7 linked regions of the Homo sapiens genome follow. The protein of the gene in region 5 purifies or fractionates together with the protein of the main gene of each other region. This does not show direct contact. Each region holds a gene or a part of one and is shown on either strand. Other genes may lie near its edges.

Region 1 (3,500 bases), on a different chromosome or scaffold from region 5:
GGAGACAGGAAAAACCACCCTTCCCTGAGCATCTGCCACGGGCAGGGCTGCAAAAAGCCTCTCCTGGCAGGTGCCAACGTGCAGCCCCTCCCCAGCCCTATTCTGGGCCTGGGTCCCACCACACTCGGGGGCTTCCCACAGCTCTCAGGATCATGTTGCAGCCTCTGCCTGGGCCTGTCCCTGCCGGCCCCTGTCCCTGCTGGCCCCTGTGGCTTCATCGCACTCCTCTTTCGTCCTTGCCCACAGTGCTCTGAGAACAGTGCCTTCTTCTGCCCCTAGAACTCAGCCTCTCCCTGCCTCAGGCCCCTGGCACAGACTGATACGCATTCCCAGAATACTTGTCCCACCACACTGGCACCGTGTCTTCATTCTGAAACCTCCACTGAAATGTCACTGCCACCCCCTTCCCGGATGCCCCCAACCTGCACATGCCCCATCACGCACTCTCTGAGCTCCCTTTACCCACCACCAGCAGTGATGAAACCAGTATTCATAGACCTGATTCCTGTAGGTCTGTGTCTCCCCACTAGGCCATGAGCCCCCAGGGCAGGGACTCAGCTTGTCTTGTGCTGCTGCTGCCCAGCATGGCATCCAAGCCCTTCTCTAGAATGGAAGAGGCTGCTCCTCTACCCCCGCACCTTCTATAACGTCACCAGACACACAACAGAGTCCTGTAGAAAATCCATAAACAGGGAGAGGACACAGCAAGACGGCAAAAGAGGAAGCTCAAAGGCCCTTGTTCCCCCACAGAGAAACACTAAAAACAACTAGAGACTGGTTAAAATATTGCATAGGAGCTCTGCAAAACAGGCAACGATCTACAGCAACCAAGAGAATGCCCAGCCCAGAAGCAGCCACATTCAGGATGTCAGGAACTCTGAGGTGTTTCACTCACCCCTGCCCCAGGCCTCCCCAGCATGGCACCACCTGATGAATGCGGCAGCCCGGTTCCCAATTCCTTCCCTTGAACTGGAGGGAGCAGAGCGGACCTTTCTGCAACATCCTAATCTGTCTTGGGCTGCCTGAGGAACAGATCTCTGTTTCACCTGACTCTGAGCTCAGAGCCCAGATAGGAAGTCAGGGAAATGGTTATGGGCACTGCTAGGCAAAGCTGTAGGATGACTATAGCCCCACGCATACCTGGGGCAAGAATGACAGGTGAGAAATACAGTAGAACATCTGAGGCCCAAGGAGGGACTGGGGGAGACTTTGAGAAAGTAAGATATATATATATATATATAAAGCTTTGTAAAAGTTTAATGGAGCCAACAAGGCAAATAAATTGTGTTCCGGCAGACATTAAGACCTGCTTTCTCTTACCAAAAAATAAGGGCACACATTTTTATCAAAATTCGATAATTCAGAGTTAAGGGTACTGAGATTAAGCTTCAAAGCACCAACTTAAACCAAACAGCAATGAAAAATTGGTTATTCAACTTGGAAAGAGGAACTAAAACCAAGGCATAAAGGGGAGATTAAATATGTGTTCCTTGATCTCAAAGTCCTTTTAGGAGCAGGAGTTCTGGCCACATGTGAGCAACACATCACACCACCAAACCCCAATTCCAGAATCTAAATTTACAATGATAGAAAAACAAAGGTTACTCCAAATGCATTTCTTGGTATATTCCAAAGGGAAGCTTGAAAGTATTCATAATGAAAGTAAGAGATTTTGAAACAGCCACGAATATGGGGAAATTGAAAAAAACACATACACAGGCCCAGGGAAGATGCATCCTCAGAAGAAACCAGAGGAAACTTTGGCCTTCATCCAGAGCTGATCCCCACACTTAGGCAGATCCTGCTATTTGGTGGGGGCCATTCCCAATACAGAGTTAGTCTTCAAAGACTGGGACAAGGAGCTGTTTTTCAAATGCCCAATGTTCAGCAAAAAAATCACACGGCATACAAAGAAACAGGAAAACACAGCTCATTCAGAGGAAGAAAATGAAGTGGCAGAACCCATCCCTGAAGAAATGCAGGCACTGGATGTACTTGACCAAGACTAAAAATGACTGTCTTAAATATGCTAAAAGAGCTGAAGGAAAACAGATAAAGAATGAAAAGAAATCAAGAAAATAACATATGACAACAAAATGAGAAATTATAAAAAGGAATCAAACAGAAATTGTGGAGCTGAGAAATACAAAACTGAACTGAAAACTCTGACCAGAGGGATTTGAGTCGGTAGAAGAATCAGCAAACTTCAACATAGCACATTTGAAAATATCAAGTCAGAGGAACAAAAAGAATGAGGAAAGTGAGCAGAGCCTCAGGGACTTAGGGGCCTCCCTCACGTGCACCATGCACATTATGGAAATCTAAGAAAGAGAAGAGAGAATGGGGCAGAGAAATTATGTGAAGAAAGAATAGCTAAAAACCTCCCAAATTTGACTAAAGACATGAATATAAACATCCAAGAAGCTCAGTAAACCCCACGTAAGATAAACCCAAAGAGACCAACATGAAGACACAATATAATCAAACTGTGTAAAGACAAAGGCAGAATATTGAAAGCAGCAAAAGAATGGCTCATGATGTACAAAGAATCCTCAATAACACTGTTAGCCAATGTCTTAGCAGAAACCTCAGAGGCCAGAGGCAGTGGGAAGATACCCCCAAACTGCTAAAACAAACAAACAAAAAAATCTGTCAACAGAGAATTCTACATTCAGCAAAACTGTCCTTCACAAATGAGGGAGAAATTAAGACACTTCCAGATTAATAAAAGATGTGCGTGTTCATTGCCACTAGATCTGCCCTACCAGACTACTAAAGGGAGTCCTGAAAGTTAAAACAAAAGGGCACTAGACAGCAGCTAAAAGCTGTAAGAAAATACAAACATTTCCAGCAAAGGCAAATGGAGGGACAAATATAGAAACTAGTATTAGTGTACAATTGGTCTGCAACACTACTTAATATTTTCTTCAGGATTTAAAAGATATATGCATAAAAATAATTACAGGTTTATGTTAATGGGTACATACCCAATATATATAGATGTAATCTGTGACATCAATAACAAAGTGGGGGTAGATGGAATTGTAAAGGAGAGGTTACTGTGTCTGACTGAAATTAAGTTGATATCAATTTAAAATAGATTGCTATAACTTCAGGCTGTTATGTATGTAATCCCTATGGTTGTAACCACAATGGAAATGTCTGTAGCATATACACAAAAGGAACTGAGAAGGGAATCAAAAACGGAAACTACAAATAATCAACTAAATACAAAATAAGGTAGTAATGAAGGACAAAAAAAGCTATAAAATATATATAAATAACAAAACATCAAAAACAAGTCCTTCCCTATGAGTAATTACTTTAAATATAAATGGATTAACTCCTTAATCAAGAGACACAGATTGACAGAATAGATTAAAAAACAAGACCTGACTACAGCTGACCCTCAAACAACATGGGTTTGAACTGCACAGGTCTACTTATATCCAGATTTTCTTCCACTCCTGCCACCTCTGAGACAGCAAGATCAACCTTTC
Region 2 (2,999 bases), on a different chromosome or scaffold from region 5:
TATAATAAAGAGCCAAAAGGATATCAAAAGGTGCAGGAAGACACCACCAGAGGCTGAGGCCGGCCCTCCATGCAGGGACCCTTCGCCAACACGGGCCTCCCCCAGACCCAGGCCCTGGTCCTCTGCCCTTCGTGGCAGGGTTTCGTGGCAGGGTTGGGGCGCAAGCTCCCCAGAGGACGAGCCAAAGCAGACTCGGATGCTGTGGACACAGCAGCACCTCCTCTCTCCCGCCAGGTGAGAGGGCTGTGGAGCGTGTCCTGGTCACGAGGCAGCACGCCCGTCAGCCTGGCCCTGGGGGCTGGACCACCTCCTGGCACCAGGCGGCTCTGCCTGCTCACAGGGTCTCTCTGGGGCTGTGCTGCGTCTAGTGTCCAGTCACTGCGACGCTCAGGTCATGGCGCCGTTCCCTCATGACCTCTGGCCTCTGCTTTACACATCTGGAATCCTGAGCCGGCCTCAGGCTTTCCTTTCAGTCACTCCCCCAGGACCAACTTCACTAATCAGGTTATCAGTGGTGTTTTTTACTTTTTAAAAAAAGCCACAATTGGATTTTGAAAAACACAGACAATGGAGGGCTGGGCCAACCATGAGGAGTGCAAAGGGCGGCACCGGCCAGTGCCCCTGGACACCCGGCTTGTCTGGCCCCTGCTCCCTGTGCTTCCTGGACACCAAACAGCATCCACCGAGGCTGGGTGAAGGCAAAAGTGTTTATTCAAGACTTTCTACCACACTGTGGGAAGCATCGATAAACAGTCATAATAATTATCATTCTGAGTCACTGCAAGCGTGGGGTTGGATGCTGGCTCTCACAGTAGCCTGTGTTGGGACCATGAGCAGCCATGCGCACCTCCACGCACGGCCGAGCTCAACCCGAAGACCACGCGTGCTCCCTGGCAGGAGCAGGAGGCCTGACCACAGACGCAGCAGCTCCCCAGCCTGAGCCTGGGAGTGCACCAGCCAGCTCGCAGCGGAGGCCGTTTCTCCTCACAGGCTGGAGTGAGCTCAGAGTCTAGAGGTCAGAGGACCTCAGACTAAGAGCTGCAACAGAACGACAGCAAGAACATTCTGGAAACGATGCCACAGTGAATCTTTTATACTGTCACTCACACTTGGTGAGGGCCTCAGACATGAAACCCTGGGGAGAGGCGAGTGTGACCTCCAGAGTTTGGCTGGGATGCGGCTGAGACAGACCTGCTGCTGGCCGAGGAGGGCAGTGGCTGGCGTGGCCCTCATGGCCAGCAGGTGCTAGGACTCCTCTGGAGGCCCAGGCGCCTGTCTAAGCTGCCGGCTGTGGACCACCTGCAGAGCTCCCCCCGCAGCCTGGCGGAGCTGGGCATCCAGGGCGCCACGGAGGTCGTTCACCTGGACATCAGGCAGGGGGTTAAGGCCAATGATGACCCCATCCCTCGGGGCCAGCTGACCCTCTGCATGAGGGCCAAGGTCCCGCCGTCGCCTCCGGAGGTCGGAGCCAGCCTGCAGTTTCAGGTCCCGGTTGGGCTTGGCATTGTCCGGCCTCTGGCCCCCCGGGACAGCTCGTTTGAGCCCCAGCTCTGGCTCTGGCCTCTGCCTGGGCTCCTGGACAGCAGCGTCCTCCCCGCCTCTCGGCTGCTCGTGGGACACAGGCACATGGTCCCCCCCGCGGGCCTTTCTCATCTCCAGGTGACCGCCATGGTCCAGCCGGTGGCCCTGCTGTCCACCCTGCTCGCCATCAGAGATGACCCGCAGTTCCGGCTGGCGTAACACAGCCTGGGGCTGTGCAGCTGCTCCTTCCGCCCCACCGGGCAGGTCCGCTGCAAGGCCCAGGTCTCGGCTCACTTGCTTGGGCTTCATGCGAGGGTCCCCCGTCTCTGCTCCTGGCCCTGCCACGAGCCAGTTGGCTTCCTTCAGAATGCTGGTGCCAGTGGCTGCCACCTCCTTCCCAGGTTTTTTCCTGTCTTGGGAACCGCCAGTAACGTCCTGACTTTGCCCAGGGAATTCCTCTGCGAGGCGCTCCTCTGGGCCCCCGGCTTCCCTGGCGGGGTCTGGCACGGGCACCTGCTCCGGGCCCTTGGGGAGCTCCTTCACAGTGCCAGCTGCCCTGGGGGCGGCATCCTTCTGGCCATCTCTCAGCTTGGCCTGGGCTGCCCGAGGCTCTGTGTCAGGGCCGCCGTCAGGAGGGCCAGCAGGGTCTCTGCCCACAGGCCCCTCAGAGTGCTCCAGGGAGCGCTGGTTAAGGTCCTGGGATGGAGCAGGGCGGCCCCCAGGAGCTCTGAGGACAGGGTCCAAAGGCAGGGGAGGCAGATTCTCCACCGTCTCCCTGGCCTTGCCTTCAGGGGCCTCCTGGCCTCTGGGCACCGCTGCCCCGGGCTCTTGATGCACCTCCACTGCAAATGAAGTCGGTCATCAATTTAGCCACAGCACTGTACACAGGCTGCCAGTGGAGGGGCTCAGAAGAACCAGCAACAACAGCATTGGGAACCAAAACCAGACTCACGCTCAGGTCTAGAGGCCACCGAGCCTCAGACCCAGCCGCATGAGGACAGCAGGAGACCCCCTGCCTGGCCCCACCCCACTCCATCCGCCAGCCCGGCCTACCCTGCCTGGGTTTATCCTCCTCGTCCTCCTGCCTCTGCTGGTGGATCTCCTTGTGCTGCTCCTCGATCACCGCCAGCAGCTTCTCCTGCTGGTCCAGCAAGCGCTTTTGCTGCACCTGCTGTTCTTTGATCACCTGAAGCAGGACGGCGTGGTCCAGCATCTCCGCCCTGCCAGCTTCTGGGTTTGGAAAGCACACAGTCAGAGTGCCCGGGCTGCTCATGCACCGTGCTGGGCCAGGGACGGCGCGGCCCACAGCAAGGCAACGCACAGGTCACCTGCAGGGAGTGTGCCCGAACACTGGCCACTGGTGACACCCATCATGACTGTGACCGTGAAGCCCGGACAGCTCAGTGATGCACGCAGGCCTGAGGGCCCGGGAGAGGCTGCGCCCTGACTGCCCCTGGAAGCCCACCCGGGATGGCCTC
Region 3 (3,500 bases), on a different chromosome or scaffold from region 5:
TTACATTTCCACCAACAGTTCATAAGCAGTTCCTTTTCTCCACAGCCTCATCAGCGTCTGTTATTTTTTATTTTATTGACTTTTTAATAATAGCCATTCTGACTGGTGTAAAATATTATCTCAGTGTGGTTTTGATTTGCATTTCTCTGATGATTAGTGATGAAGAGCACTTTTTCATATGTTTGTTGGCCATGTGAATGTCTTCTTTTGAGAAATGTCTGTTCATGTCCTTTGCTCAGTTTTTAATAGGGTTATTTGTTTTTTGCTTGCTGATTTAAGTTCCTTATAGATTCTGGATATTAGACCTTTGGCAGATGCATAATTTGCAAATATTTCTCCCATCCTGTAAGTTGTCTGCTACTCTGTTGATAGTTTAGTTTGCTGTGCAGAAGCTCTTCAGTTTAATTAGGTCCCGCTTGTCAATTTCTGCTTTTGGGGCAATTGCTTTTAATAAAATTATATATATATATATATATACACACACACACACACACACACACACACACGTGCATCCATTTTTCAGTAATCATAGGAAAGTAAATTCAATAGCATACCAAGTATTCAGATTAAGCTTCATCGCATTATACTGGGAAAATACCGACATTTAACAAAGTACAGTGTGCAGATTTACTCTGTGATTAACCTACATAAAAGAAACCTATTTTTAAAACCTATAGTGTCTGAAGATAAAAAAAACAAACTAATAATGATAACTTAAAAAAGAAAACATCTTTTCCACCATCATTATTCTTCTGTATTTACCCATATACTTGATTTGGTCCAACAGTTCTAGCGTTACTTTATTTTTATTTAATTACTATTATTATTATTTTTTTGCTACGGGGTTTCACTCTTGTCGCCCAGGCTGGAGTGCAATGGCGAGATCTTGGCTAACTGCAACCTCTGCCTCCTGGGTTCAAGTGATTCTCCTGCCTCAGCCTCCTAAGTAGCTGGGATTGCTGGTGCCAGCCACCATGCCTGTCTAATTTTTTTGCATTTTTAGTAGAGTCGGGGTTTTACCATGTTGGGCAGGCTAGTCTCGAACTTCTGACCTCAGGAGATGCCCCCTGCCTCGGCCTGACAAAGTGCTGGGATTACAGGCATAAGCCACCGTGCCTGGACTTTAGCTTTACTTTAAACATATCAATTGGACATAAAGGAAAACAAATGATTAACAGACTGAAGGTACAGAAAAAAAAATTCTTCCTAAGACTTCCTGATGATATAAACCGGGTTACATATGCTTGCAAAACAAAAAATATTAATAAGCAAATAGTCTCTAGTTTAAAGGCACAGAACATAATGAACAATTCAAAAGTATTCAGCTTTAGCAGAATTTTGTATTTCTATAATCAGATAAAGTTGTTTTTTTTTAAAGGCTATTTTCCAAAGAGATGCTATTTTTTGAGATGTGCTGCATAATTTTTCTTAATAGTTGGAAAAATATGTTTGTACTCTAAGTGAAGTAATTTCTGGAGAAAAAGTGTGATGCTGACTGAAGCTAAAACCCTAAGTACATAAGAAGAAATGTATACAGTATTCCCAGGATTTATGTAAACATGGAGAGCCACTTAGTAAATGGCACTGGGTTCTGGTAATCACACAGTCCACTCTCATTAGGCATCTCCCTCTTGTGCATTAATATGTGGCATCATATTCTCAGAGAACATTTTATAACAAAGTGAAATAAAAAGCCCCTCCAGATTGTGAATGTAAGATAATCAGATTCTGTAGTGCTCATTATGACTGCAATTATGTAACAAAACTCTCCAAATATAGTTCAGTGATTGCAGTTATTAATCATTCCGGTTTTGTCTCAAGTACTTGCTTTATAGCCTGCTGGATAGACTCCATAATTCTATAAGCTGAATGTCGAAAGTCAAACATGTGCATGTGAATCTGCTGTTCTAAAGGCCTTTCAATATAATTTACCCTTTCAATTTGTATTTGTGAATGCAAAAAAAGTGGGGGAAATAAAGCTGGTGTCAGTAGAGTCACTGACCTTTGCAGTAAACATAATATAGTCTTTAACAGAAAACAACATTGCAAATAAAAAAACTATTTTGCCAGAACTAGAAATAGTGCTGCTTAAAAAGTTAGTCTCAGAATACCAATCAGTTCTGAGACAATCAGTTACAAAAGTTGGGGGGAAAAAAAAACCTTGAACAAATTTGTACATTTGATAAGCGGGAAAATGGTCGGAGCGCTGGAAAATGTGAATTTTTGAAGGTTCAAAGCACTATCATAGAAAGAATACAGAACTAAACACGTTATGCATAAAACCACATATTCTAATTAATTTAACTATAAAATGCCAAGCAAAGACAGCAGATTTATAATATAGAACAAACACCATCTGCACCACCTTAAATCATTGTTACAGATATATTTCTAGGAAAAAAATACACCTGAACAATTCTCAAGCCTAGATTCTAAGATGCTAAAGTATTAACTAAATAGGATTCCAAACAGACCCAGAGAAAGTTACTGCATAATTATTTAAATATTAACATGTACTGAGTTCAGAAATATAAATATAATAACACATAAACACAGTTTACAAATTCATGTCACCATTTTCCTGTGCTCCATGATTTCTTCAATTTGGCTACATACATTGGGCCCCAGGCTTTGCCCTTATCTGGAATCACTAAGAGCCCACATTCCTGGCCAGTGGGAGCAAATGTGAAGTCGTGGGAGCAAGTCCTTGCTATTCCTTTAATGTCCATAGGCATGATGTTACCGTGGGAGTTTAAAATTTCACTGATCACATCTTGATTTTCTGCCTTGGAAAGCGTGCATGTAGAGTATACAAGTATCCCTCCAGGACGTAAGGCCTTAATTGCAGACCTGTGTGCAATCAGAAAAATGCAAAAGATTAGTTAAGTATATTAAAAAGAAACCAGGGGGTCTGACAGCAAAGATTACGTACTTAAAACTAACCTTACTCTGACTTAGACTGCAATTACTTTGGATGTTTTCTAGTCTTTTTTTTTTTTTTGAGACAGAGTCTAACTTTGTCACCCAGGCTGGAGTGCAGTGATGCCATCTCGGCTCACTGCGATGACTGCCTCCCAGGTTCAAGTAATTCTCCTGCCTCAGCCTCCCAAGTAGCTGGGATTACAGGCGGCCTCCACCATGCCCAGCTAATTTTTGTATTTTTAGTAGAGACGGGGTTTCACCAAGTTGGTCAGGCTGGTCTTGAACTCCTGATCTCAAGTGATCGCCTGCTTTAGCCTCCCAAAGTGTTGGGATTACAGGCGTGAGCCACTGTGCCCAATCTCTGATCTTACACCTATTTCTTTCTAACTTATCCTTGAAGACTTGGAAAATGATAATCAGACCAATCAACATGGAAAAGATAGAGTAAGTTAGACTGGTTGATTGCTATTCAAAAAGTAGGAAAATAGGGGTAGAGAACAGAATAATGAGTTTGTCTTTAAATCGATGGGAGTAAAAATAAAAACAAAGCATACATATGAAAGCATACATAAGAAGTC
Region 4 (3,500 bases), on a different chromosome or scaffold from region 5:
ACTCACGCTGTCATCCACCAGGTAGGCATTGATGAAGTGGGCCAGCAGGTTACAGCCCCACAAGAAAACCACATCGCCCAGGAGGTGAGGGATTAATCCACTAAAAAACAAGGTAAGCAGAGATGAGCAGGAGAGGGAGAGGAGCAGTTCCTGGGGGCTCCACACCCAGGAAGCAGGCAGGGATGTTCCGAGCTCAAAATCTTAGCATATCCAATGGCACAGCCTTAGAAAGGAGGCCTGCAGGGTCCAGCAGCTATGCACACTGGGAAGATAGTGCTCCTTTTCCCATGGGGAGGTGTTCTATGCCGCTTTGGATGCCATAAATTAGCTAATAGTCTCAAGCAGTTTTCAAACCACAGAAGCCAGGGATCAAGATGTGAATACTGCCAAATTTGGAATTTCCAAATGCAGATAATAAGAGTGCCGACGTGTTGGTAATTTTCTCCTGGCCTCTTTACCTAACCAACTCTCAGAAGACACACTGCTCAATGCATCTGTTCTCTTTGCCCCTGAAAATATTCTATCAAAAAGATTCTATGCAAGCATTTACAAGGAGGGCTAACTTTTTAAGTGATGGCCTTTAGGATAAACAGCTCTATAAACTGCTAAGGAAGGTTCCCCAAGATGCAGTGCTGAGGGCAAAAGGCCAGTTTGAGGTCAGTGAGTCCCATGTGCCTCTTGTGTTTTTTACAATGTGTTTGCTTGTTTAGGTACAGAGTGCCCTGGGAGGCTCGCCAGGAGAAGGATGGCTGTCTCCTGGGAGGAGAAGCAGAATTTTTGTTTTTGAATTAAAAAAAAAAATCTTATATTTGAAAAACTCAAAAGAATATATGTAATACATCTATGAAGAGTATTAATAAAAGGAACCTCTGTGAATGCAATTTCTAATCTTGTCGTCCCTGCCTGTGCTCAGATTGACTTTGTGCTATACCCTTTGGTGCTTTCTATGCACTGTAACATGTATGAGTATCACCTGTTCCAAAATCACATGGGGAGAAAGAACCCAAAGAGTAGGCATCTGTTGTGCGGGAATCCTATTCAAACACCAGAAGAGAACTACGCAGTGTGAAAAATGCCAGAGGTGGTCATGTGCAGTGTTTCAAGATGGGTGGCTGTTTCTGTAGAGCAGCCATTGGCTGGGGTCCCGGGGCTGCCCCTTTGGCAGGGCACATGGTCCCTGAGGGCCACAGATGCCCTGCACTTTGTCACCTCACATCCAACTTACTTCACCTCTAAAGAAAGCACATACTGAAAAGACTATGTTCAGAAAGAATAAAGCACAGACAGAACCCAGAAGCCAGGCTTGATGAGTTGTTTTTTGACTTGCTGTTTTAAGGTCTAGGCGGTGACATACATGCTGATAGGTATGTCACAAATGTTGGTTTGTTACCAGGTACATGTGCAAATATATGTATGTATAAATACTTACACATACATATATGTGTGTGTGTGAATATAAATCAGAGTTTCTCAACCTTGGCACTATTGACATTTTGGGCTGAATAATTTTTTTTTTCCCCAAGAGACAGGGTCTCACTCTATCACCCAGGCTGGAGTGCAGTGGTGCAATCATAGCTCACTGCAGTCTCCAACTCCTGGGCTCAAGCCATCCTCCCACCTCAGCCTCCCGGGTAGCTAGGACTACAGGTGCATGCCGCCACGGCCAACTAATTTTTAAAAACATTTTTGTAGAGACAGAAGTCTCACTATGTTGCTCAGGCTGGTCTTGAACTCCTGGCCTCAAGTAATCCTCCCGCCTTGGTCTCCTGACAGCTGCAGAAACCACTGAGACTAATCCCAACTAACTGGGATCACAGATGCAAGCAACGACACCTGACTGAATAAGTCTTTGTTGCGGGGCTGTCCTGTGTACTGTAGGATGTTTAGCAGCGTCTCTGGCCTCTACCCACTAGATGCCAGTTGTGACAACCACAAGATGTCTCCGGACACTGCCGATGTTCCCCGGGGAGCAAAATCACCTCCTGCTGAGAACCGTATATATATTTCTATATCATATACACACACATGCACCTACAAGTAGTCACTAATTGGTTAAACAAGGGGCCATAAATAAAAAACATCTCACAAACCGGAAAACCATGATATAAAGACTTCTTATGAATAATATGGAGCCCTGTATCTAGTACAGCGGATACTGTTGTATACCATGTGTCTACCACGTTTGTGACATACTTATCAGCATGTATGTCACTGCCTAGACCTTAAAACGGCAAATCAAAATACAACTCATCAAGCCTGGCTTCTGTCTGCACCTTATTCTTTCTGAACTTAGTCTTTTCAGTATGTGCTTTCTTTAGAGGTGAAGTACACTGGATGTGACGTGACGAAGTACAGGGTGTCTGCGGCCCTCGGAGACCATGTGCCCTGCCAAAGAAGCAGGTCCTGGGTCCTGGCCGATGGATGCTCTACAGAAAGAACCGCTCAGCAGGACAAGATTTTCTGGCTTTTCAAGAGATGCCAGACATGTGGATTTTTGTGCAACATATCTTAAATGTTAACGGCAACAACTAATTTGTCAGAAAAGCAATGTCAAACAGAATCCACTGGCTGTGGTCAGCCTGTGAGCTTCCAGAGCTCCACCCTCAGTCCAAGTCAGATTTTCAGTCATGTTTTAGCAGTGAGGCCAAGGACTATGCAGTGACTTAGCTCATGAAGACCAGCCCCACACCCACCACAACTGGATGAGGCCCAGTGGGGCTGGTCAGTTCATCTCCCCCATGTACTAGACACACAGTTCCACTTTTACATGAGCCATGGCCTGAAAAGGGCTAAGCAGCTTGGACACGCTATGGAGCTCTGGAGAGCTGGCTGCAGCACTCAGGCTAGGGCAGGGCCATGTAGTGAAGTCCCAGGCCAGCAGCTGCGGTCTGAGAGGTTGAGGACACACCTGTTAGCAGAGCCATGCCCGTGGCCAGTTATGGGGTGTATAAACTCACGTACACGAAGAATCCCAGCAGCCCTTCCTCTTTGAAAATCTTCCCAATGGAGCTCAGCACACCACTGTGAAGAAGGCAAGACAGAGATACAGGGTCATGCAGTCACCTACCAGAAGCCCACCCGTTGGTGTGGGGCTGAGCCCACCAGTTCTGCTCAAATCCAGCCAGTCCTGGCAGGGATGGGGAGGACTATTACCATGAAGAACCAAGTAGAAAGGCAAAGAGCGCTTGTTCAGGGTGAGGAGGAGTTTACACAGTTCATGGAGACTGGGGAAGCCCAACCACCCATGGGAGCAGCCCACTAGCAGTCCTCTACTGGTGTTTTCTGGGAGATAGGAGTTTAGGAATGCATCTCCTAACTTGGGCCACTGCTGCAGAGGCGGCAGGCCCTTCTCTTACCCGGCCCTCACACTTATCTCTGGTTAAACAACCCTCTAGCAGAGGAGCCCACAGGCCCGCCCAAGAGTAAGAGTAGGAGGGGGTAGTAAGCAAAGAGAAGTACTTTCCCAGAGGGCAGAGAAAGAATACAGGGCCCTGCAGGAG
Region 5 (4,123 bases):
TTTGTTTTGTTTTTGAGATGGAGTCTCGCTCTGTCGCCCAGGCTGGAGTGCAATGGCGCGTACTCAGCTCACTGTAACCTCCGCCTCCCAGGTTCAAATGATTCTCCTGCCTCAAGCCTCCCGAGAAGCTGGGATTACAGGTGCCCGCCACCACGCCCAGCTAATTTCTTTGTATTTTTAGTAGGGACAGGGTTTCACCATGTTGGCCAGGTTGGTCTCAAACTCCTGACCTCAAGTGATCCACCCACCTTGGCCTCCCAAAGTGCTGGGACTATAGGCGTGAGCCACTGCACCCAGCCCCTGGCTAATTTTTTCCTTGGTTTTCTTAATTACAAAATGGAATAATAGTACTTAGATGAAAGAGGCAGTGTGAAGATCAAATGAGATAATGTGCAATACTGGCAACCACAGGGGCACAAAAGAAGTCCTCAAAAACCGTAAATAATTATTATTTGAACTATTAAAGGCAAAACCAGACAGCTTCATTTATATAATTAAAACCCCAGAAGACACCAATGTTTCAAAATTTGACTTTTTCCAAAAATGTCATTACATTTACATGATAGATACTCATGGTCAAGGGCTGAAGGAAAATCTCTAAAAATCAAACAATTTGATTTGTTGAGGTAGTGGAGTTATAGGTGAATTTTCTTCCCAGAAATTTCGATTACCAAAATTATGTGCACAGTTCATACCAGAGCCATGGCACCAAAAAAAAAAAAATCATGTGCCAGCTCCTTTAAATATTAGTAAAGAGGAAAACAGCCCACACAGTAACAAAATAGGAATTCAAACCCAGCTATGACTCCAGTCTATGCTCATTACCAATGTTAGGGACACGCTTCCTTATTCCCAAGTGCTTGATTTCTGTGCAAAATTTATGGTAATATATGATCGCCCTATGAATTCCTTCTTGTAGGACACAGTTTAATCCAGTAGTTCATATGATGTAGAAATATTAATGAAATTTTAACACAATCAAAATTCTAAATGGTAAATAAAACAGCCAATTCTTCATTCTTTAAATTTTTTTGGAAGTTGTCGAATCTCCAAGTTTATGGGCCTTCACAGTTGACTTAGTGAACAACCTCAAAGTGATAAAGCAGACAAGGCTTTTTGAAGCAAACATTCCTTCAGGAAATTCAAGTGGCACTTCAAAGAAGTGTGGACTTTCCTGGAATAGAATTTTGACTTCTGTGTTCCATGGAAATGAATGGAATACAGAAATTACTTCTTAGGCAAAAATAAGTTATATACAAGATACAATACATTATTAAAACACCCAATAATCCTCAAATAATTAGCTACATTCTGAAGTTAATTTATTTATAAATTATTGAAGCTCTCAAGCTAGCATTACCTCTACATTAGGAAAGAAACTAGATAAAATAGTTCTTAAATGAGTCACGCAAGGTTGCGTAACAAACCAGCAGAAAAACAGGTAATCAAGTTGTGGACTGCACGTTCAGCATAATAAACATTACTGAAGACAGGCACTCAGTTTTCATAACAAATGTTAGTTTTTCAAACTATTCTAATCCACACAAAGTCTTCCAAAAACATCTGTAGTTACTCTACCATGAAGTTCCTTTTTTTATTAAATGTTTCCACTGGCCTTTTATATCCTCATCTTGTGCTCAAAAAAAAAAGCTCAAAAAACATGGATAACTGCCACAGCTTAAAACAAAGAAAGGATCTCTCATACAGATCCAAAATAAAATGTGTTAAAACCTAAAGACAGGTAAAACAAAGCCAGTATGTTTAATCTATGTAACTCATTTCTGGATCTGTGTAACAGTATAAAGTCTGATAATTAAGCATTACTCATAAAGTAGAGAGTACTATGAAATTTGTTAAAAGAAGGAAAAGGCACAAACTTTTTCATCAGGTATTAAATACAATTGGGAGAATGGTACATATATAATATGTAAGCAAAATGGTAGGAGGTCTTACTAAAACTTCAACTTTGCCCTTTTTAGCACCAATTTTTTTTTTTTTTAAGTATTATCTTTTCAGGATTAAGATTATGAATGTCGAGAACCTAGGCATGTTGGGAATGGAGTAATCGCCGCCTACACTAGTAGGCAAATTTCCCACTCACATTTCGAACCCTAAAATAATTCGGCTTCTCACCTTAAAGTCTAAACCCAAAAATTTACTCACATCTTAACCCATTTAATATTTATAAGATTCAGTTTCTTTTTATCCCAAAACAAAAATATACCCCCAACCTACCTCGTTTACTGTTTGAGTGAGGCCAGGCGTGGTGGCTCACGCCTGTAATCCCAGCACTTTGGGAGGCTGAGGTGGGAGAATCGCTTGAAGCCAGGAGTTCGAGACCAACCTGGGCAATACAGTGAGACCCTGTCGCTATAAAAATAAAAAATAAAGTAATTAGTAGGGCATGGTGGTGCGGGCCTGTAGTTCCAGCTACTTGGGAGGCTGAGGCGGGAGGATCCCTTGAGCCCAGAAGTATGAGGCTGTGGTGAGCTATGATCACGCCACTGTACTCTAGCCTCGGTGACAGGGCAAGTACCTGTCTCAAAAACAATAAAAATAAAAATACCATTTGTGCGGTACGAAGGTGGGGGTGGGGAGGGACCGTTTCTGAAAGTCCTTTTCAAAAATTCAAGATATCAGTTTCAATACTAAAACATGGAAAAGCTGCATAGTCATTTTGTTTACTTACAAATTCTGGCGAAGTTTTAAATCGTAAAACTGTTAGTATCAGGAGAGCCCTTCGAGTATTCTCTCCGCTCCACACCGCTCGGCTGCACCCAGCGGCCGCCGCGGCCCGAATGTCGTCCAGGGTCCCCGCCCATATGACAAACACTTTCCGCCGGAAGGCGCCCGTGGAATCCTGGGACTAGTAGTCTCCGTGCCCTGCCTTCTGCCTTCTCCATCCTTCACCCTCTACTGCCAGGTCGTCTGACCCAGCGACAGGCGCGGTAAATGCGCGACCAAACCGCAGAGGTCCCATGCAATCTCATGCTGACAGGATTACAGGCATCTCTGTAAGACGTCGACCACCCTGACCTGAAATTCATAGACTGAAGAAACTCATAGGACCAACACAGTGAGCAGCAGTACCAAATGATAATGGCAAGCACCATGTCCTGGAACACACCCTCTGTGCCATTAAGAGGAGCATGTAATCCAATGAGTTGCCTAATCTAAACCTCAGTTTGCTCGTGTGTCAAATGGGGACAACGTTACTTACCTCATAAGTTTGTTATTAGTAGATTAGATGACGTATGCAGCATTTCTGTTAAATGACAGTAGTGACAAAAAATAGCTGTTTTGATCTACTAATTTTATAAATGTGAAAATTAAGAGATGGCGAGCAATTTACCCAAGAACATACAATTTGTTGGGGGAAAAATGAAGTAAGTCTAAAATTCCTGTTCTTGACCTACAGCAATTCAGGACAAATCTAACCAAATTTCAAGAAGAAATCTATTCATGTAAAACTCCCTTCCCCTTTCCTCTTTTTTTTCCCATAACAGTCCTGACCAACACACTATTTTACTTATTTTGATTTTTGCCCGACTCCTCCCATAGAATATAATCTCCAAGAAGGCAGGAAACATTTTTTGTCTTTTAGTCTATTTTGTTCACTGCTGTATCCCCAGCACAGAGAACAGGGACTGCCTACTACACAGTAGCTCAAGTATTTATTGAATTAATAATTCCTCATTTAATGTGATTTTTGGTGCCTTCACTTCTCAATCACCCTCTCTTGGCAGAAGTGACAGGATTTGGTAACACTCTTGGATGGTGTTTAATAATTAACTGCAAGTCCTAATTCAACAAAAAGAATACTATATTCCATTCACTTTATTGTGTTTAATTAATTTCAGTATAACATTTCCAGGAATTTTCATTTGTATTGTCATTAAAATATTTTTCTATCATTTGTAAGACTGGGGAATAAATGGAGCCAGCTACTATGTCTTTAATTAACTTCCTCCTGTTTAATATTTTAATCATCTTTTCCTTATTAAAATTGTTTGCCTACTTCATTTGTACTACTAAGTCACAACGGATAGATTTATCTCTTTAAATAAATGAACTTCTGCTTACCCTAAAGCAAAAAGTTCCTGTACAAAAAATTTATTGTTCT
Region 6 (3,500 bases), on a different chromosome or scaffold from region 5:
ACCAATATTTTTTTAACAGCCCTTGGAAGATAGTGTCTGCAAAGTACTATCTAGAGGAAGGGTCATGTGATCCTTCAGAGAAACCTTAGTTTGAATATTTGGTAGCTTTGACCAGGGAAAGTTACTTTTCTTCTCTGAGGCTGTTTGCTTAGTTGTGAGATGTGGATAATGATACCTCTTTCATAGGACTGTGAAGAAAATGTATAGCAATGCCTAACAGCAGGTATTCAGGGATGACTGCTAGTGTTAGTATTATGTTCATAACGCAGCAAGGAGAAGTAAGGAATTACTGGGTTTTAGCATGGCTTAGAGAACATGGCTGTAAGAGGACTGTCAAATCAGAAGTGATCTACAGCCACTGCCCGACACTGGAATTTCTGCAAAGTTGTAATTCCTTCCCCGAGATGCTGCCCAGACACTATTGACTGCTAAGGACACATTAATCTCTCTAACTGTCTTGGCTTGTCAGCCTTGGGACTTCTGTAGATCCAGTTGGGATTTTTCCAAACAACTGTGTTTGGAATTCAAGGAAGTGTTTCACGAGACTTCCCTTCAGAAAGAGCTCCAAAACAAAGAAATGGGTTAGTTTACTGAACAGAGATTTCAGCCTAAGATACTTATAGCCCTGTCACAGCTTGCTGTGGCCAGTACAGCTTAGTGGACATCTACTTACTTATTCCAGTCCTAACTAGAACCGTTTTCGTGTGTGTGTGTGTGTGTGTGTGTGTGTGTGTGTGTATGTGTGTGTGTGTGTTTGAGACAAAGTTTCGCTTTTGTTGCCCAGGCTGGAATGCAGTGTCAAGATCTTGGCTCACTGCAACTTCCGCCTCCCGGTTTCAAGCGATTCTTCTGCCTCCGCCTCCTGAGTAGCTGGAATTACAGGCACCCGCCACCATGCCTGGCTGAGTTTTGTATTTTTAGCAGAGACTGGGTTTTGCCATGTTGGCCAGGTGGTCTTGAACTCCTGACCTCAGGTGATCCGCCCACCTCGGCCTCCCAAAGTGCTGGGATTACTGACATGAGCCACTGCGCCCGCCCCCTTTTCCTTATTTGGATGTTTGCCCATGTACTGCGGCTCTCTAGTTCATATTTAAGCCAAATTATTCTTTTACTCAGCAAACATTAACTTGATAAGTTCCAGTAATATTAACTGCTTAGGGATCTAGTCCTACCTTTTGGAAAGGAAGAGAAAGGCCAAAAAGTTGTTTTTACCTCCTGACTAGCTAACTTTTAAAAATCGTAATTGAATAGAAGTACTTGCTTATAGGATGCTGATCCAGGAGTGGACACTAATTTGTAGAAAAGTTTTATTGGTGGTACTTCTGAATGAATGGGCATGTGATTCATCCCATGTGATTGAAAACTATGAAGAAGCAATTCCATCACATTTTTAGCTCTAGTTAAGTATTTGCATATTAGTATTAACCCAGAGCCTCTGGATTTTAACCTAACCAACTGAAAACTTAATATCAAAACCGACAGAGGAAAAAGTAGCCAAATCTCATTAAAACTTAACTAGCTGGCCAGGCACGGTGGCTCAGGCCTATAATCCCAGCACTTTGGGAGGCCAAGGCAGGTGGATTACCTGAGGTCAGGAGTTCAAGACCAGCCTGGCCAACATGGCGAAATCCTGTCTCTATTAAAATACAAAATTAGCTGGGTATGGTGGCCCATGCCTGTGATCCCAGCTACTTGGGAGGCTGAGGCAGGGGAATCACTTGAACCTGGGAGGTGGAGGTTGCAGTGAGCTGAGATTGAGCCATTGCATTCCAGCCTGGGGGACAAGAGTGGGACTTTGTCTCAAAAAAAAAAAAAAAAGAGATGGAGTCTGACTCTGTTGGCTAGGCTGGTCTTGAACTCCTAGGCTCAAGCCATCCTTTCAGGAACTACAGATGCGTGCCACTACACCTGGCTTTGTTTTGCTTTTTAATCTGCAATCAGCTAGGTCTAAGAATGGGTTAAGGAAGTTAGTACTGGGTGGTAAATGAATTATTGGATTTATTATTAATAGGTTCTTACAGTCTCTTACAATCTTAACTATTATATGAGTTATGAATTTAATAAGGCTAAGAATTACTTAAGTGCAGTTATTAAATATTTTCAAAGATAATAGGGAGATGAGAGGAGTCTTTTGGGAGAGGGCTTGCTCCTTAGTACTGAAATACCTAAAAACATACAGTGGTTTTCATGTTTCATTCTTACAGAACCTTCTATTTTACTCATTTGTAACTGCTATGAATTTGGTTAATATCCATAAACAAGGAATAATGATTAATAGATTTATTCAAGGTGCCCGATGGGGGGTCCTAGTGTTGGAAACTGATATTCTGGGCAGTGGTGACTTGTGGTAGTCCTCTCCTGGGAAAAGGAGACTTGGGAAATTCCTAAACACAGGCAAAGTAAACATGTTGGCATATTGCTTGCCAATAATGACTGAAAAGTTAGAAATTTTATTTTAAACCAACAGTAGCTATAGTTGATAGTATATATACAAAAGTATTAGTCATATGAGTCTCCTGTTAAGGGGTGTGAGGCCACATTTACCAGCTCTAATTACATACAACTGCAGAACATGTCATGAATGTGAAAGGCCTTAGCTGTGGCACATAAGTACATGTCACAGTGAGCAAGGTCTTATTATGGAAAAGGAAGATGGAGGGCAATATTTGTGAGTGTCTTTAAAATATATATGGCTTAATGCCCACAATAGGCCTACAGCTTGACATTTATTTAACTTAGTGAATAAAAGTATGGATGTCCCCCTAATTGGTTGTGTTGCCTGCTGTGGTGATGATGGTGTTGGCGAAGAAGAAAACCGAGACTCAGGTTAGCAGGAACTTCTCTAGGAAGGGTGTGGGGTGGCTCTGACCCCAGAGTCAGCCTCTTTCCTCATGCCAAACTGCCTCACAGCTGGTAACGTAATAAGGCTAAGAGAAGTGAGCCGATATTTATAGAATGTAGACTACAAGTAGCCTGTGGTGGCTGGGCATAGTGGCTCTCACCTCTTTTCCCAGCACTTTGGGAGGCTAGGGCTGGAAGATTACTTGAGTCCAGGAGTTAGAGACCAGTCTACAAAAAATAAAACAATTAGGCTGGCATGGTGGTGTGTGCCTGTGGTCCCAGGTAGTTGGGAAGCTGAGGTGGGAGGATCACATGAGCCCAGGAGGTTGAGGCTACGGTGAGCCATGTTTGTGCCACTACGCTCTAGTCTTTGTGACAGGGTGAGACCCTGTCTTAAAAAAAAAACAAAAAAAGAAGTAGCTTGTAATTTTAAGTAATTGTCATTTTACCTTATGACACAAGTTTGCAACATTTGTCTGCTGCAGTGCACCTGAGGGATGTGATCCCCACCCCACCCCCCCACCCCCAGTAAGGACTCACTAAGATAGCAGTGAACGAATAGCAAATACTTTTTTTTTTTTTTTTTTGACACAGGGTGTTACTGTGTTGCCCAGGCTGGTCTTGAAATCCTGGGTTGAAACAATTCTCCTACCTTGGCC
Region 7 (3,500 bases), on a different chromosome or scaffold from region 5:
GCAGAGAGCTATGATTGCACCACTGCACTCTGGCCTGGGTGATAGAGCGAGACCCTGTCTCAAAAAATAAATAAATAAAATAAATAAAAATGAAAAAGCTTCTACATATGCATTAGAAGCTTTAATTGACCTCCACTTAATTGACTCACCACATTGAATAATTTTTATTTCCTTTGTAAAATACAGTGTACACTGAATACTTGGTATTAGTTGGTTGATCTCCAGTACTCCAGCGTGCTTGTTTACCTACCAGTACAGTAAATTTTTTTACTACTAAACCTGTATATGTTGGTTGTATTTGTTTTTTTGTTTGTTGGTTGGTTTGTTTGTTTTTGAGATGGAGTTTTGCTCTTGTTGCCCAGGCTGGAGTGCAATGGTGCAATCTCGGCTCACTGCAACCTCTGCCTCCTGGGTTCAAGCAATTCTCCTGCCTTAGCCTCCCGAGTAGCTGGGATTATAGGTGCCCACCACCATGCCTGGCTAATTTTTTTTGTATTTTTAGTAGAGACGGGGTTTTGCCATGTTGGCCAGGCTGGTCTTGAACTCCTGACCTCAGGTGATCCACTTGCCTCAGCCTCCCAGAATGCTGGGATTACAGGCGTGAGCCACCGTGCTAAGCCTGCTTGTATTTGTTTTTAAAAGGTAATTTGTTTAATATGTTGTAACCTGACAATATATGAGTGGGGGAGATTGGAGTTCTTTTTACTGAAAATTTACAAATGAAATAATATGATGTCTGGGATTTGCTTAACATTATACAAGGGGTGAGGGATGGAGGTGGGTTGTGGGTAGTATGGAAGAAACACAATTCAGCACATATGAATAACTGTTGAAGCTGGGTGATGGTTACATTAGATTCATTATGATGAAACAAATTGTTTTGAGAAGAGTTAATGAAAACAAGTTGCAAAAAAAAATACTGTCCGCTTAAATGTGGGTAAGATGACTATACAAGATACGTGGAAAAAATATAAAAATCTAAAAGAGTTTTATTTTATTTTATTTTATTTTATTTTTTGAGATGGAGTCTCGCTCTTTTGCCCAGGCTGGAGTGCAGTGGCGTGATCTCGGCTCACTGTAAGCTCCACCTCCCGGGTTCACGCCATTCTCCTGACTACAGGCGCCCTCCACCACACCTGGCTAATTTTTTTGTATTTTTAGTAGAGACAGGGTTTCACCGTGTTAGCCAGGATGGTCTCGATCTCCTGACCTCGTGATCCGCCCGCCTTGGCCTCCCAGAGTGCTGGGGTTATAGGTGTGAGCCACCGCACCAGCCATCTAAAAGGGTTTTATACTCACATTACTTGTCAAATGTAAAATCAATGGGCCTGGAGTTAGAGAAAAAGGTCTTGGCCTCTTGGCCCCATATAGAAAGTTTGAGGCTGGCATGGTGGCTCATGCTTGTAATCCCAACATTTTAGGGGGCCAAAGCAGGAGGATTGCTTGAAGCCAGTTCAAGACCAGCCTGAGCAACATAGCAAGACCCTGTCTCAAAAAAAAAAAAAAAAAATAGCTGGGTGTGGTGGCACACACCTGTAGTCCCCAGTCACTCAGGAGGCTGAGACAGGAGGATTGCTTGAGGCCAGGAGTTCAAGGTTGCAGTGAGTCATGATCACACCACTGCATTCCAACCTGGGAGACAGAGTGAGATCCTGTCTTTAAATAAAAAAACAAAACAAAACAAAAACAAAAAAAACCCCAGGTCAGGTACAGTGCGTCATGCCTGTAATCCCAGCACTTTGGAAGGCCAAGGCAGGCAGATCTCTTGAGGCCAGGAGTTTGAGACCAGCCTGGGCAACATGGTGAAACCCCATCTCTACAGAAAATTTTTATTATTATTATTATTGAGACGGAATCTCGCTCTGTCGCCCAGGCTGGAGTGCAGTGGCATGATCTCGGCTCACTACAACCTCCGTCTCACAGATTCAAGCGATTCTTCTGCCTCAGCCACCCGAGTAGCTGGGATTACAGGTGCCCACCACCACACCCGGCTAATTTTTGTATTTTTAGTAGAGATGAGGTTTCGCCATGTTGGCCAGGCTGGTCTCAAACTCCTGACCTCAAGTGATCTGCCTGCCTCAGCTTCCCAAAGTGCTGAGACTACAGGCGTGAGCCACCACGCCTAGCCCAAAAAATACAAAAATTTAGTTGGGCATGGTGCCATGTGCCTATGGTTCCAACTACTGGGGAAGCTGAGGTGGGAGGATTGCTTGAGCCCAGTAGGTGGAGGTTGTAGTGAACTATGATCACTCACGTCATTGCATTCCACCCTGGGTGACAGAGTGAGACCTTGTCTCAAAAAAACAAAAACAAAAATTAGCCAGGCATGGTGATGCACAACTGTAGTCCCAGATACTTGGGAGGCTGTGGCAGGAGGATAGCTTGTGCCCGGGAGGCAGAGGTTGCAGCGATCCAAGGTCACTCCACTGCATTCCAGCCTGGGCATCAGAGCAAAACCCTGTCTCAGAAACAAACAAAAAAACAAAAAAGCCCCCCAAAAATAAATAAACCAAAACCACACACACACAAAGTTTGTTGAATGAGTATATATATACCACTGATGAAAGGAAGGTGAAATGTTTGCCATACATATTTTTATGATCGTTTACCTGAAATTAACCTTTTAAATTACATAACCAATTGTTCTAAATCACATTAGATAAAAGGGTTTCTACTGCATAATATCCATAATATATAAAGAGCTCCTAAAGATCAATAAGAGAAAGGTACCCACTACAAAAAGCAAAAAGTGGCAGAAGATTATACATGGGCATTTCCCAGGAAAAGAAGTACTGGTGAATAAAAAAGAAAAGATGTTCAAATTGACTCTGGTTATTAGGGAAATGTAAACCGTTTTTCACCAGACAGATTGGCAAGAACTTAATATCCACTTTTAACAAATAGGCATTTGCATACACTGTTAATGAGAGTTCACATGTATAACTCTTTGCTGAAGAATACCAAAATCATCTCATTTTTAAATGTGCATACATTTTGACCCAATAGTTTTATTAGAAAACAATTCTAGGGAAATATTACATGTGTATAAAACTATGTATAAGGTTTCGCTGCAGTGAAACTGTTTGTAACTGTGAAAATTTGGCAGTATCCTAAATATCCATCAGTAGGGAATGATTTAAATAATGGTAAGTTATACTGTGGAATACCATTGAGTTATTAAATAAAAAAAGAAGAAAAGCCTCTTGGTTAGACATATATATACACTGACATAGGAGTTCCAAAGTATGCTGTTAAGCAGGGGAAGAGAGGGGGAGGGAGTCAAAGAACAGTTGTATACCATAATTCCACTTATCTAAAAATAAACCCTTATCATGTGTATGGGTAATACAAAACAATCTGATTGATACACATCAAGAGTAATTATCCCTAGAGGAAAAGAGAGTGGTGTTAGAGGAGGGCAGTATAGTTTTACTTTTTCTCTGTACAATTCTATATTATATATTATAATTTACAATTACAATTTTGATAGTAGGTATGCA

What was found.
Region 1: the proteins of TOR1AIP2 (region 5) and ENTPD6 purify together in Homo sapiens (co-immunoprecipitation; 2 studies listed by BioGRID and IntAct, with this or other methods). This does not show direct contact.
Region 2: the proteins of TOR1AIP2 (region 5) and SLC38A10 purify together in Homo sapiens (affinity purification with mass spectrometry; 2 studies listed by BioGRID and IntAct, with this or other methods). This does not show direct contact.
Region 3: the proteins of TOR1AIP2 (region 5) and NSUN3 purify together in Homo sapiens (affinity purification with mass spectrometry; 2 studies listed by BioGRID and IntAct, with this or other methods). This does not show direct contact.
Region 4: the proteins of TOR1AIP2 (region 5) and MTCH1 purify together in Homo sapiens (affinity purification with mass spectrometry; 2 studies listed by BioGRID and IntAct, with this or other methods). This does not show direct contact.
Region 6: the proteins of TOR1AIP2 (region 5) and SLC25A30 purify together in Homo sapiens (affinity purification with mass spectrometry; 2 studies listed by BioGRID and IntAct, with this or other methods). This does not show direct contact.
Region 7: the proteins of TOR1AIP2 (region 5) and ACSL4 purify together in Homo sapiens (co-immunoprecipitation; 3 studies listed by BioGRID and IntAct, with this or other methods). This does not show direct contact.

The regions. Positions count from the first base shown.
Region 1 is NC_000020.11:25,202,212-25,205,711, reverse strand, and holds part of ENTPD6 (ectonucleoside triphosphate diphosphohydrolase 6), read right to left. Parts: intron 1-3,500. UniProt on the Homo sapiens protein: Catalyzes the hydrolysis of nucleoside triphosphates and diphosphates in a calcium- or magnesium-dependent manner.
Region 2 is NC_000017.11:81,244,311-81,247,309, forward strand, and holds the end of SLC38A10 (solute carrier family 38 member 10), read right to left. Parts: intron 2,752-2,999; coding exon 2,575-2,751; intron 2,364-2,574; coding exon 1,246-2,363; 3' UTR 501-1,245; downstream 1-500. UniProt on the Homo sapiens protein: Facilitates bidirectional transport of amino acids. May act as a glutamate sensor that regulates glutamate-glutamine cycle and mTOR signaling in the brain. The transport mechanism remains to be elucidated.
Region 3 is NC_000003.12:94,125,561-94,129,060, reverse strand, and holds part of NSUN3 (tRNA (cytosine(34)-C(5))-methyltransferase, mitochondrial), read right to left. Parts: intron 2,851-3,500; coding exon 2,571-2,850; 3' UTR 1-2,570. UniProt on the Homo sapiens protein: Mitochondrial tRNA methyltransferase that mediates methylation of cytosine to 5-methylcytosine (m5C) at position 34 of mt-tRNA(Met). mt-tRNA(Met) methylation at cytosine(34) takes place at the wobble position of the anticodon and initiates the formation of 5-formylcytosine (f(5)c) at this position. mt-tRNA(Met) containing the f(5)c modification at the wobble position enables recognition of the AUA codon in addition to the AUG codon, expanding codon recognition in mitochondrial translation.
Region 4 is NC_000006.12:36,972,697-36,976,196, forward strand, and holds part of MTCH1 (mitochondrial carrier homolog 1), read right to left. Parts: intron 3,022-3,500; coding exon 2,962-3,021; intron 101-2,961; coding exon 1-100.
Region 5 is NC_000001.11:179,875,004-179,879,126, forward strand, and holds the start of TOR1AIP2 (torsin-1A-interacting protein 2), read right to left. Parts: upstream 2,801-4,123; 5' UTR 2,690-2,800; intron 2,371-2,689; 5' UTR 2,236-2,370; intron 1-2,235. UniProt on the Homo sapiens protein: Required for endoplasmic reticulum integrity. Regulates the distribution of TOR1A between the endoplasmic reticulum and the nuclear envelope as well as induces TOR1A, TOR1B and TOR3A ATPase activity.
Region 6 is NC_000013.11:45,411,874-45,415,373, reverse strand, and holds part of SLC25A30 (kidney mitochondrial carrier protein 1), read left to right. Parts: intron 1-3,435; exon of another isoform or gene 3,436-3,500. UniProt on the Homo sapiens protein: Antiporter that transports inorganic anions (sulfate, sulfite, thiosulfate and phosphate) and, to a lesser extent, a variety of dicarboxylates (e.g. malonate, malate and citramalate) and, even more so, aspartate.
Region 7 is NC_000023.11:109,723,258-109,726,757, reverse strand, and holds part of ACSL4 (long-chain-fatty-acid--CoA ligase 4), read left to right. Parts: intron 1-3,500. UniProt on the Homo sapiens protein: Catalyzes the conversion of long-chain fatty acids to their active form acyl-CoA for both synthesis of cellular lipids, and degradation via beta-oxidation. Preferentially activates arachidonate and eicosapentaenoate as substrates.